3 linked regions of the Homo sapiens genome follow. The gene in region 2 interacts genetically with the main gene of each other region. Each region holds a gene or a part of one and is shown on either strand. Other genes may lie near its edges.

Region 1 (3,669 bases), on a different chromosome or scaffold from region 2:
AGTCCTCCTCCCGCTTCCCCGCCTGGGCCTTGGCAACTGCAGGCCCTGTCTTCCCAGGGGGCGCTGGGGCAGCTCCTTTCCTGGGGGACTCCTTGGCAGGGGCTGAGGCAGCTCCGACCTGAGAGGTTTTTCCTGAGGCCTTCGCCTGGAGAAACAAGACAAGGGGAGACAGCCCAGAGGATGGACGTGTGAGGAGACACAGGACACCACGTACAGAAGACCAGATAGGGCAAATGATGCCACACAGTGAGAGGGGAGTAAGGGGCTGGGGTCTGAGGCACGCCCGGGGCTCTGGCCCAGAGTGGGAGAACAAGTCCTGAGAAGGCCTTCTGGGGACGGGCCTGGCTGCATGGAGTCTCCCTCCTCAGGCCTCACCTGAAGCAGGGCCTTGGCAGCTGGCGTCTCCTCCTCACTGTCAGATGACTCCTCGCTGCTGCTCTCTGAGTCCTCCTCTGGCTTCCCTGCCTTGGTCTGGGAGGCTACAGCCCCTGCCTTCCCAGGGGGTGCTGGGGTAGCCCCTTTCCCAGGGGTCCCCTTGGCAGGGGCTGAGGCAGCTCTGACCTGGAGAATTTTTTCAGAGGCCTTTACCTGGTGAAAAAGAAAGGGCAGCTTGCTCTCCTGCTTGTGAAAACTCTCTGGTGATGCCTTTAGGATAAAGTCCAGAGGCCTTAATGAGGCTCCTAAGACCTCCCCTGCTTCCCTCCCCACTCCCCACCTTGACTGATACTTTGGCCACACTGGCCTCCTGGTTTCTCAAAAATCGATCAGCTTCACACACTCTCACTCCTGGAGCCTCCATGCCCCCTGTTCCATTTCACTTAGCCACTGCCTCCTCTGTCTCTGGCTCCCTAAGAGACACCACTTCCTTAACATGGTTCCCCCTGGTGCCCCAGCACACTGGGTAGTTAGAGCCTGTCCTCTGCTGGGCTCCCACTGGCCAGAGAGCTCTGGAGGCACAGGCACTGGCTTATCGGGAGCATCATCAGACTGGGCTGTGGGGAGGGGGTGTGCAAAGGCCCAGGGAAGGGAAGGAATGAAGAGGCAGTCTGAAAGTGGGGAAGGGACTGAGGGAGGCCCTCACTGGACTTTCTGCACATGGACAGCAGCAGGACCCCTGGAAGCCCACCCTCAGCCTCATGGGGCAAGGTTTGCACACCTGGCCCCCTCTTCACTAACTCCTCGGTGGGGCTCTGCACTGTCTTGGGGCTTTGGCAGGGTGGCTGCAGGCCCTGTCTTCCCTGGAAGGCCCTGGGTGTTCAGCCCTGGGCCAACAACCCTAGAAAACAGCAGCTCTGATCTTCTAAGAAGCTTCTCATGCAGAAAGTGCAGGCTGCTCCACACAGGTCTTGCTTGGCTAGCTCCTTTTTAAATTTTTGAGCCAACATGGAGAAAGCAGATTTTACATAAAAGTTCACATTTATGGCCAGGTGCGGTGGCTCATATCTGTAATCACGGCACTTTGGGAGGCCAAGGTGGGAGGACTGCTTGAGTCCACAGCTTGTGAAACACAGTGAAACCCTGTCTATACACACACACACACACACACACAAGCTGGGTGTGGTGGTGTGTGCCTGTATTCCTAGCTACTCAGGAGTGAGGCTGCAGTGAGCTATGATTGCCGCTACTGCACTCCAGCTTGGGCAACAGAGCAAGACTCTGTCTCAAAAAAAAAATTCACATTTGTGTTCCTTCTCAAAGTGGATGCCCATCCAACACTGTGTAGCCCCCAGACACTGCAAAATAGACAGCCGAGGCGTAGAAGTTCCCTGTAGATGGGGTGGGAACAACAATTTGTCACAATTCGTAGTCCTACTTCTACCTCAGGGCCTTGACACTTGCTGAGCCCCTGCCTGGAATGACCTTCCTAAGAGTGCTTCCTCCTTCTGGTCTTTACTGAGACGCCTTCTCCCAAGGCCAGCCCAGAGCACTCTGCTTCAAGTTGCCATTCCTATGTCCCCCACTTCCTCTTTACCATTTACCAGCAGCTAACGCAGGGGATCTGCTTATCTACTGCATGCCCCCGCCTTGTCCTGCCCCAGGCCTGGGGCTGGGTGGGTGACCCTCACTCTTCCTCCTTCCTGCTCTGACTTCCATTGCTTTCCAGCCCCCCTGTCTTGCCCTTGGGATACACCCAGGGCCTTGGGGCTGCAGCCCTGCCCACTCCCAGCAGATGGGGAAGGGAACTGGATTCCCTTTAGCTAACGTAGTGTTTGCCTGCTCAGGGTCTGGTTTGTCCTGAGAAGTCAGAGGATTAGGCAATCAAAACTTCTCAAGTCCCTCACAGCAGGACTGGCTGGGACGAGGACAGCGGCCCATTTACTAGGCAGAGAAACTGAGGTAAAGTTGGTCACAGACAAAGTGGAGTGCAAGACTCCCCTGTGGGAAGCAGGCTGTTCTTGCTCTTCAACTTCACACCATAGTCCTCCCTCTCCCCAACTCCAGTGGCAGAGGTGCTCATGGCAGAGTGCTCAGGCTGCTGGGGGACCCGCAGGTCCTCCAAGGGGCAGCCCTCCTCCAGGCCTCACCTGGCTTCGTGTCCCTGCAGGGGCCTCCTCCTCACTTTCAGATCCCTCCTCACTACTCTCTGACTCCTCTTCTGGCTTCTTGGCCCTCTTGGCTGGGGGCAGGGCCCCTCCTTTGACCTGGGGTGTCACATCCCCCACCTTCCCAGGGGCTGGGGCCGCCTTTCTTGCTGGAGACTCCTTAGTAGAAACTGATGAGGCTTTGACCTGGGCTGGTTTTACTGAGGGTTTCCCCTGGAACAAGAGGATGGAATTAGAAAATGAATAATAATTACTGTTTCCCCCTAAGGTTCTGTATTAGGGGCTTCAGCAGTTGATAAAGCTCTTTCCTAATGTCACTGGATTTTTAAGCAACTCCCTGAGACGGCTATTAGCTTTAGATCCATTTTCCAGAAAAGTACACAAGGCTTAAAGAGGTAAAATCACTCATGATCAATATGAAGGGACAGAGCCCCACTGGAACCCTGGACTGTCTGACTTTGGAACAGATCTCAAAACCATTACGTTCATCTCCCACCTGGCACACACCGGGCTTGGCCTGAGAGAAGGGCTTGCATCTCAATCAGGAGAGCGCATCCTGTCTGCCCCTTAAACTCAAGTATCTGATCACAGCAGCCCTCCTGAGGGCCAGGAGTTCAGGATGTGAACACCACCTCTGCCACTGGCTTGCCACACCTTGGGCAAATTCCTTCCCTCTGTGAGCTCTTTCCTACACTTCCACAATTCAGACATTTCCCAGGCAGTCAGTGCCCTACTTCTACCTCTGAGATCCATCAGACCCCTTGCGGCCCTGGGTTTCTGGGGCGTCTGCTACTGGAGCTCTGCACAGCCTCAGCCCATTGAGGTTGTGTGTTTATGGAGGGCTGGGAGTGGTCTTCTTCCCTTTGGCAAGGCCTGGGGTGACAGAAGCCAGGGATGTCCTTACAGCTGGTGGTATCTAGGGCGCAAGGGTGAGGACGGAAGGTGGAGGGCAGCCCTTGGTAAGGCCTGGGGTAGATGGGGGTGAGCTTTCAACCTTCACAGGGTTACTGGGCCAGGCAGCACAGTAAAGTGAGAAGTTCCCTGGGCACCAGATCAGTTCATCCCTGACTTGTGCTGGTTTTCCCTTGAAAACATCTTTCCAACTGTGGACACCTTGGTCTCCCAG
Region 2 (3,669 bases):
TTTTGGTTTCATGGGAGAAAAAAAAGGTTCTAAATTTAGAGTGTGGTAATGGTTGGTTGCACAACTCTGTAAATGTATGAAAATACATTGAATTGTACAATTTAAGTGGGTGATGGCGTATAAAAAACGTCTTGATAAAACGAAAAAAAAAAGGATCACTCTAGTTGGAAAAAGAGAACAACTCTTTCAAGAAGTTTTGCTGAAAGAGAGTAAAACAATGAAGTATAGTCTATGGGGGAAGTTTGGGTCAAGAGATGATTTTAAGATAGAATAGGCTGGGCATGGTGGCTCACACCTGTAATCCCAGCACTTTGGGAGGCCGAGGCAGGCGGATCACGAGGTCAAGAGATTGAGACCGTCCTGGCCAACCTGGTGAAACCCCGTCTCTACCAAAATACAAAAAATTAGCCGGGCGTGGTGGTACATGCCTGTAGTCCCAGCTACTCAGGAGGCTGAGGCAGGGGAATCACTTGAACCCAGGAGGTAAGAGATTGCAGTGAGCCGAGATCGCGCTACTTCACTCCAGCCTGGCGACAGAGCAAGACTCCGTCTCAAAAAAAAAAAAAAAAGATAGAATAACAAAATTTTTACATGATGATGGGAAACATCCATAAAGAGGGGGGAAAAGGAAGAATTATTGGAATGAACATTTTAGTCCCCTTTAAAATAAGAGGTAAAAAGAAGTGTGCAAAAAAGGTCCCAATACAAACTCTCCACTCAAAAGTAGTTTTAGTAGCTTTTAGCAAAATCACTGAGATTCTGTAAAAGCTACTGTAGGTGAAGCTGTAGGCATAAACTTCTGGGAATCTATCATTTCTTCCAGCAAACTCAAATTTTATTTACCTCAGGTGCAGCCTGCCTTTTGTAGCTATCTGAATCTTCCAAGGTCTGAAAATAACTGTACATGTATTCTGCAGCTTGCTGCCATTGGTGCTTCAGCAGAGCTTCTTGGATAAAACTTAAACAAGCACTTGTTGTCTGAGCAAAATCCTTCCTCCTTTTCCCTCCAATGGCTATAAAAACGAAAAAGAAGAGAGTTTTTATCCAAGTGGCTCCAGTTCAACTATTCAAAAAACTTACTTCTGATAAGAAGTTTTAACAAGTAAACAGTAGGCATTACTTGACCCAGCCCATTCCCAGTACCAAAGCCAGCTTCACTTGAAACAAACCCTTCTACATTATATTAATTATTTTTAGCAGATAAAAACATTTCTAATTTGATGTTTTGGGGCTACTAGAGTCACCAGATCCTTTAAATCTGATTCAATCATCCTTTCATCCTTGTACCAAATAATTTGCGGAGAATCTCTCAAACAGGCCCCCAAAAGCACAGTCCCAGGTATTTAGAATGGGTAAAATGTCAGGGTCATTCTAGGCAAACATGGTCTTTATTACCTACCCATGTTCTGCAAACCCCAAGTGGGCTTTTATTTTTTAAGGACCAAATTCCTAGTAACTCAATGATATTATATACAAATGAGATTAAAACAGTTGCAAAAATTAGCATTTATATCTCTAAAGTATTGGCAATCCCAATGTTAAGAACATTTGGGCTTAGATACAGTGCTATTATATGAATGACTAGTTACATTGCTACATCTTCTTATCTTCCCACGTAACTATGAGACCCCTCTAGTCCAGCTGGGTAATTGTACCCCAGTAAGTACACAAAGACCAACAGGTACTTTACAAAGATACTTTTAAAACAATTAACTTGCAGATATTTGATTTCCTTACATACTCTTTCCACAAGTTAATCTCCTAGACAGCTGTGCCTACATAGTCAAAGCTTCACAATCAAAATCATTACACACTATCTGAAGGTGAAAACACAGGTGTTGAAAAAGTAAATAACTCTAACATCTCCTTTTGCAAGTTAGGCAATTCCCAATTCTTTGCTCATCAAAACTGCAGAACAACGTAATTTTTTACAATAAATCATTATGCAATTTTTCATCAATAATTTAGAAAAAATTCACAGACCTGATACACGGCTATAATTAAACTCCATTCACTGCCATCTACTTACTTATGTGACTAAGGTTTCTCAGAATTTATGTCAATTAAAAAAAATAGCAGAATCAATGCTAAATGTTTTCTCATTCTAGAAATACATAAAAGTCACCCACAAATACATAAAAAATTGGGGAAAAGTTTTAGATAACTTTATTAAAAAAAAAAAAAAAAGAGTCTTGCTCTGTCACCCAGGCTGGACCGCACTAGCACAATCACAGCTCACCATAGCCTAGACCTCCTGGGTTCAAGTGATCCTTCCTTTTGGCCTCCCAAAGTGCTGGGATTATGAGCATGAGCCACCACACCTGGCCAACAACACGTTTAATACACGTTATATTGATCAGCTGTGTACAACTATTAATGATAGCAATGTCTCAACCTAGAAAAAGTTTTAATTCTTAAAACTTACAGGATATAAACAAAAAAAGTATAAATATTGATACATACTTTTATTGCAAGAAGTACAACAAAGAGGAACATAAAATGTCCATCTATTAAAAGCTTGTTCATAATTTTTTTTAAAATGAATAACGCAAGGTATTAAAACCCTATGCCATTCCTGTGCTATTTGGACTCCATCACATATAAAGTAATATATAGTCATTTAAAAATACCAACATGCTGGAAATTTTATCTCTTGCAAATATTAAACATACAATAAAATTTTTTCAGATGATTCCTTAAAACTATGCAAGGTAGTACTCAATTTTTCAGAAAAAACTAGGGGATACAAAAGTGAAAAGTTTGAAGACTACTGTGCTAGACTAGTGTTCTCAGACTTTTGAATGTACATACAAATCACCTGGGGACCTGCCCTTGCTACTCAATGTGGTCCTGGCATGCAGCAGAAGTATCACCTGGAATCTCATTACAACTACAGAGTACTATGCCCAGCTCTCTCAATCAGAAGCTGCATTTTATAAGATCTACACCAAAGCTGCTCGGCATCAGTGGCAATACCTGCCAGCTAGCCTAGGAAACTGACAAAACACCTCGTCCTTAAAACATCCCTTATTTACCTAAAGGAGAGAACTGTTCTCAGGCTAAGCTCCCTTCTATCGCTCAAGCTTTCACAACTGAGATTATAAATTGACTTTAGATAACTATACCTAAATGTTTGGAAAATACTTTTGTCTTCCAACCTAGCCTAGCTACCTCAGGAAAAGTTCTCCTCTCATTTCATTCTTTAATGAGCAAAAGATAGTCTTACTTGATCCTGATGACTTTAAGAAAAAAAAATTGTCAAGGAAAACACATTTTTACATGGAATAGAGATGTACAATAAAGAACTAGTGTCATCAACCTAACTTCTAATATGCTACTCAAAGAATCTGGAAACTTATCAATCTGTCAACAAGTATTTTTTGGGCACCACTGTGTCCCAAGCACTATCGCAGGTACTCATCATACAGCTTCAATCCAGACTGGCCCTGTCTTCAAAGTTTTTATTCTAAGGGGGTTGCTGGGCATGCCCTTCAAAAAGCCAAAAGATATCTACCAGCATAAAAAATAAATAGAACAATTGTTAGGCAATTTTGTTTTCCTATTATGGTTAATTACCAGCACAATGTCAATATTAATTGCAAGTATTTTCTCATTGCAGACCAAAAGTATTTTCGGTTTAACAGGCTATCCATGACATATAAAATATTC
Region 3 (3,607 bases), about 67 Mb from region 2:
CTCCTGACTTCATGATCCGCCCGCCTCAGCCTCCCAAAGTGCTGGGATTACAGGCATGAGCCACTGCGCCCAGCCTAATTTTGTATTTTCAGTAGAGATGGGGTTTCCCCATGTTGGTCAGGCTGGTCTCGAACTCCTGACCTCAGGTGATCCACCTGCCTCAGCCTCCCAAAGTGCTGGGATTACAGGCATGAGCCACTACACTTGGCCTAGAAGACATGGTTTTTAAGACTTTATCCCATCCTAATCCTGTGTGCTGTAGTGGATCCACATTGCAAAGGAAGCATGCAACACCGCCTGCCAGAGCCCAGCATGGGCCGTGGGGAAAGGACCGTTGCAATCACTGCTGTTATAGGCAGGGTCCTCAGGGAAGGAGGCATCCATCTGCATCTTTACCTCTGACCTAAACTCAGAAGAGTAGTGTGGAGGTCCTGGGCTTTCCACATCAAAGGCACATGTTTAATTGACTCTGTGTTTATTTGGAGTAGCATGGTTTCCCTGAAGCCACCCATTCACTGCCTCTCCCAAGGGTGACTGCAAGGACAATCTTGTTTCAGCCACCACCACTCAACCATGATGGTCTCCAAGATAATTAATTCCATGGCCTCCCCAAATTTCCTCTGCCTCCTAGCACTGATTCTTAACCCCACCAGCACTTTCTATTTATTAGGGAAATTAAAAAAAAAAAAAAAACCCAGGCCAGGCACAGTGGCTCACACCTGTTATCCCAGTACTCTGGGAGGCCGAGGCAGGCAGATCACTTGAGCCCGGGAGTTCAAGACCAGCCTGGGCAACATAGTGACACTCCATCTCTACCAAAAAACTATTTAAAAAGCCGGGCGTGGTGGTAGGCACCTGTAGTCTCAGCTACTTGGGAGGCTGAGGTGGAAGGATCGCTTGAGCCCAGGAGGTCGAGGCTACAGTACACCATGATTGCACCACTACACTCAAGCCTGGGCAACAGAATGAGGCTTTGTCTCTAAAAAAAAATTTAGACCAGGCGTGGTGGCTCACGCCTGTAATCCCAACACTTTAGGAGGCCGAGATGGGCAGATCACTCGATGCCACAAGTTCAAGACCAGCCTCAGCAACATGGTGAAACCTAGTCTCTAAAAAAAAAAAGCCAAGTAGAGGCTCGCTCCTGTAGTCTCAGCTACTTGGGAGGCTGAGGCGGTGGAAGGGTGGCTTCCGCTCCAGAGGCAGAGATTGCAGTGAGCCAAGATCATGCCACTGCACTCCAGCCTGGGTAACAGAGTAAGACCCTGTATCAAAAAAAAAAAAAAATTAAAAATTTTTAAAAACTTACAGGTGAAACTAGGGTGCTGCTAGGGTTAAGAACTGATTCTAGGCCAGGTGCAGTGGCTCACACCTGTAACGCCTGTAATCCCAGCGCTTTAGGAGGGCGAGGCAGATGGATCACAAGGTCAGGAGTTCCAGACCAGCCTGACCAATATGGTGAAACCCCGTCTCTACTAAAAATACAAAAATTAGCCAGGGATGGTGGCATGTGCCTATAATCCCAGCTACTTAGGAGACTGAGGCAGGAGAATTGCTTGAACCTGGGAGGCAGAGGTTGCAGTGAGCCAAGATGGTGCCACTGCACTCCAGCCTGGGCAACAGAGAGAGACTCCATCTCAAAAAAAAAATGAACTGATTCTACCAGTTAACCACTGGCCCCTCAAGGTCTTGCTTCCCTTGGCCCCCATAGCTTTACTCCTCTGCTCTGCCCTCATCCTCCTTCCCTTCCTTCCTTGCCTGTCATCTCCATATTTTGAACCCCTCAGCCCCTCAGCATCCCTGTCATCCAGGGCCCTCTCCCTGGATGCCATGGGCCTATTACCTCCTTGGAAGCAAATCTCTATTCTCCAGACCCATCTCCCCGACAAGTTCCAGACTGGAATTTCCACCGCCCACAGGACAGGCAGATCCACCTGCTCCACCCATACCAAGAACGTACCCGGGCTGACTGTGCTCAGCACGTCTTCCCTTGAGCCAGCTGCTCCTCTCAGGCCAGGCACTCAGCATCATCGTCACTCACCAAGTTCTGAATGCTCTTCCCTTTTGGGCTCACTGCCACCCTCCTCGGGCATGGCACCCCTCCCAGAACCCAGTCCCCCTGCCACTAATGAAAGCTTTAGGCCATGCCAGCAAACTAGACACCTTCAAGACCAAGACGAACTGGTATAGAAGACAAGGGGATGTGGGGATTGGAGCAAACTAGAGAAAGCACACAGGAGAACACATGCCGTCTTGCAGAAGTTGCATCCACTCAGCTTCAGCCAATTGTTGCTATGCGGGAACATGGACCCAAATCTTACAATTTCCCAAGCCATGCTAGAAATCTAGGTTTTAGTGTGAAATCTCTTTGTTAAATTTAGGAGACTTAATTGTAAAACATTTTCAAAATACTGTCAGTGAGCTGCCAGTTTTCAATTTCTGCTTCTGAATAGCCTTTGGAAGACCTCTGTCACCTTTTTTTTTTTTTTTTTTTTTGAGATGGAGTTTCGCTGTTGTTGCCCAGGCTGGAGTGCAATGGTGCAATCTCAGCTCATCGCAACCTCTGCCTCCCAGGTTCAAGCGATTCTCCTGCCTCAGCCTCCCGAGTAGCTGGGATTACAGGCATGTGCCACCACATCCAGCTAACTTTGTATTTTGAGTAGAGATGGGGTTTCTCCATGTTGGTCAGGCTGGTCTCGAACTCCAGAACTCAGATGATCCTCCCCCTTGGCCTCCCAAAGTGCTGGGATTGCAGGTGTCAGCCACCATGCCCGGCCTCCTCTGTCACTTTTATAGCCATCCTCTGCTCAGAGGAAAGAGCTGACACCTCTCTGCCCAGTCTCGAGGCCCCAGTCCACACTGTCTACAACTATCTACAGCCATCTTCATACCTAATGCCAAAAGAGGCTCCCCACATTAGTTAACCCTTGGAGTGATTCACTCTAAATTTGGCCGTAGCACACTAGAGACAAAGAAACACAAACACAACCCAGAAATAAGTTTCAGGCCCATCCCTCCCCTTCCCACCCAAGTCACCACCATTGCAGGAAACTTCTTCTCCCTTGCCCTACCCCTCTCACCAGTTCCACACACCAGCCCACAGTCCAGGCCCGCTGGAGACTATCAGCATCCTGTTTCCTTGGCTCCACCAGCTCCCGGAATGCTACTACCACCGTCAAACCCCGGTTATACTTGCCTCCAATGGCATTGTACTCCAGGACCTGGAGGGCAAGGAAAGAGGTACAGGGTATCAGGGTCCATACAGCAGCTACTGTGAGTTTTCTCCTTGCTCTCTCCCATTTCCAACCACCACCTAACTTTATCCTCCCCAACCCCAACTCCTCTTCAAGGAGCCTCTGGAATTGCTACTGTCTTTACTCCTTCCCCAAATTTCTGGAGCAAAGCTAGAAGAGGTCCCAGTACCCAGGCACATTCTTTCTGCATGGTCTACCCTAGTAAATTTATTTTTTGTTTTTATTTATTTATTTATTTATTTATTTTTTTGAGATGAATTCTCTCTCTGTTACCCAGGCTGGAGTGCAGTGGCACGATCTTGGCTCACTGCAACCTCTGTCTCCGGGTTCATGAAATTCTCCTGGCTCAGCCTCTC

Evidence for each region.
Region 1: changes in TAF1A (region 2) and TCOF1 together harm fitness more than expected from each alone (negative genetic interaction), as found in Homo sapiens cells (one large-scale study listed by BioGRID).
Region 3: changes in TAF1A (region 2) and FDPS together harm fitness less than expected from each alone (positive genetic interaction), as found in Homo sapiens cells (one large-scale study listed by BioGRID).

What each region holds. Positions count from the first base shown.
Region 1 is NC_000005.10:150,371,093-150,374,761, reverse strand, and holds part of TCOF1 (treacle protein), read right to left. Parts: intron 2,757-3,669; coding exon 2,526-2,756; intron 589-2,525; coding exon 376-588; intron 146-375; coding exon 1-145.
Region 2 is NC_000001.11:222,583,285-222,586,953, forward strand, and holds part of TAF1A (TATA box-binding protein-associated factor RNA polymerase I subunit A), read right to left. Parts: intron 1,014-3,669; coding exon 844-1,013; intron 1-843. UniProt on the Homo sapiens protein: Component of the transcription factor SL1/TIF-IB complex, which is involved in the assembly of the PIC (pre-initiation complex) during RNA polymerase I-dependent transcription.
Region 3 is NC_000001.11:155,311,866-155,315,472, reverse strand, and holds part of FDPS (farnesyl pyrophosphate synthase), read right to left. Parts: intron 3,219-3,607; coding exon 3,078-3,218; intron 1-3,077. UniProt on the Homo sapiens protein: Key enzyme in isoprenoid biosynthesis which catalyzes the formation of farnesyl diphosphate (FPP), a precursor for several classes of essential metabolites including sterols, dolichols, carotenoids, and ubiquinones.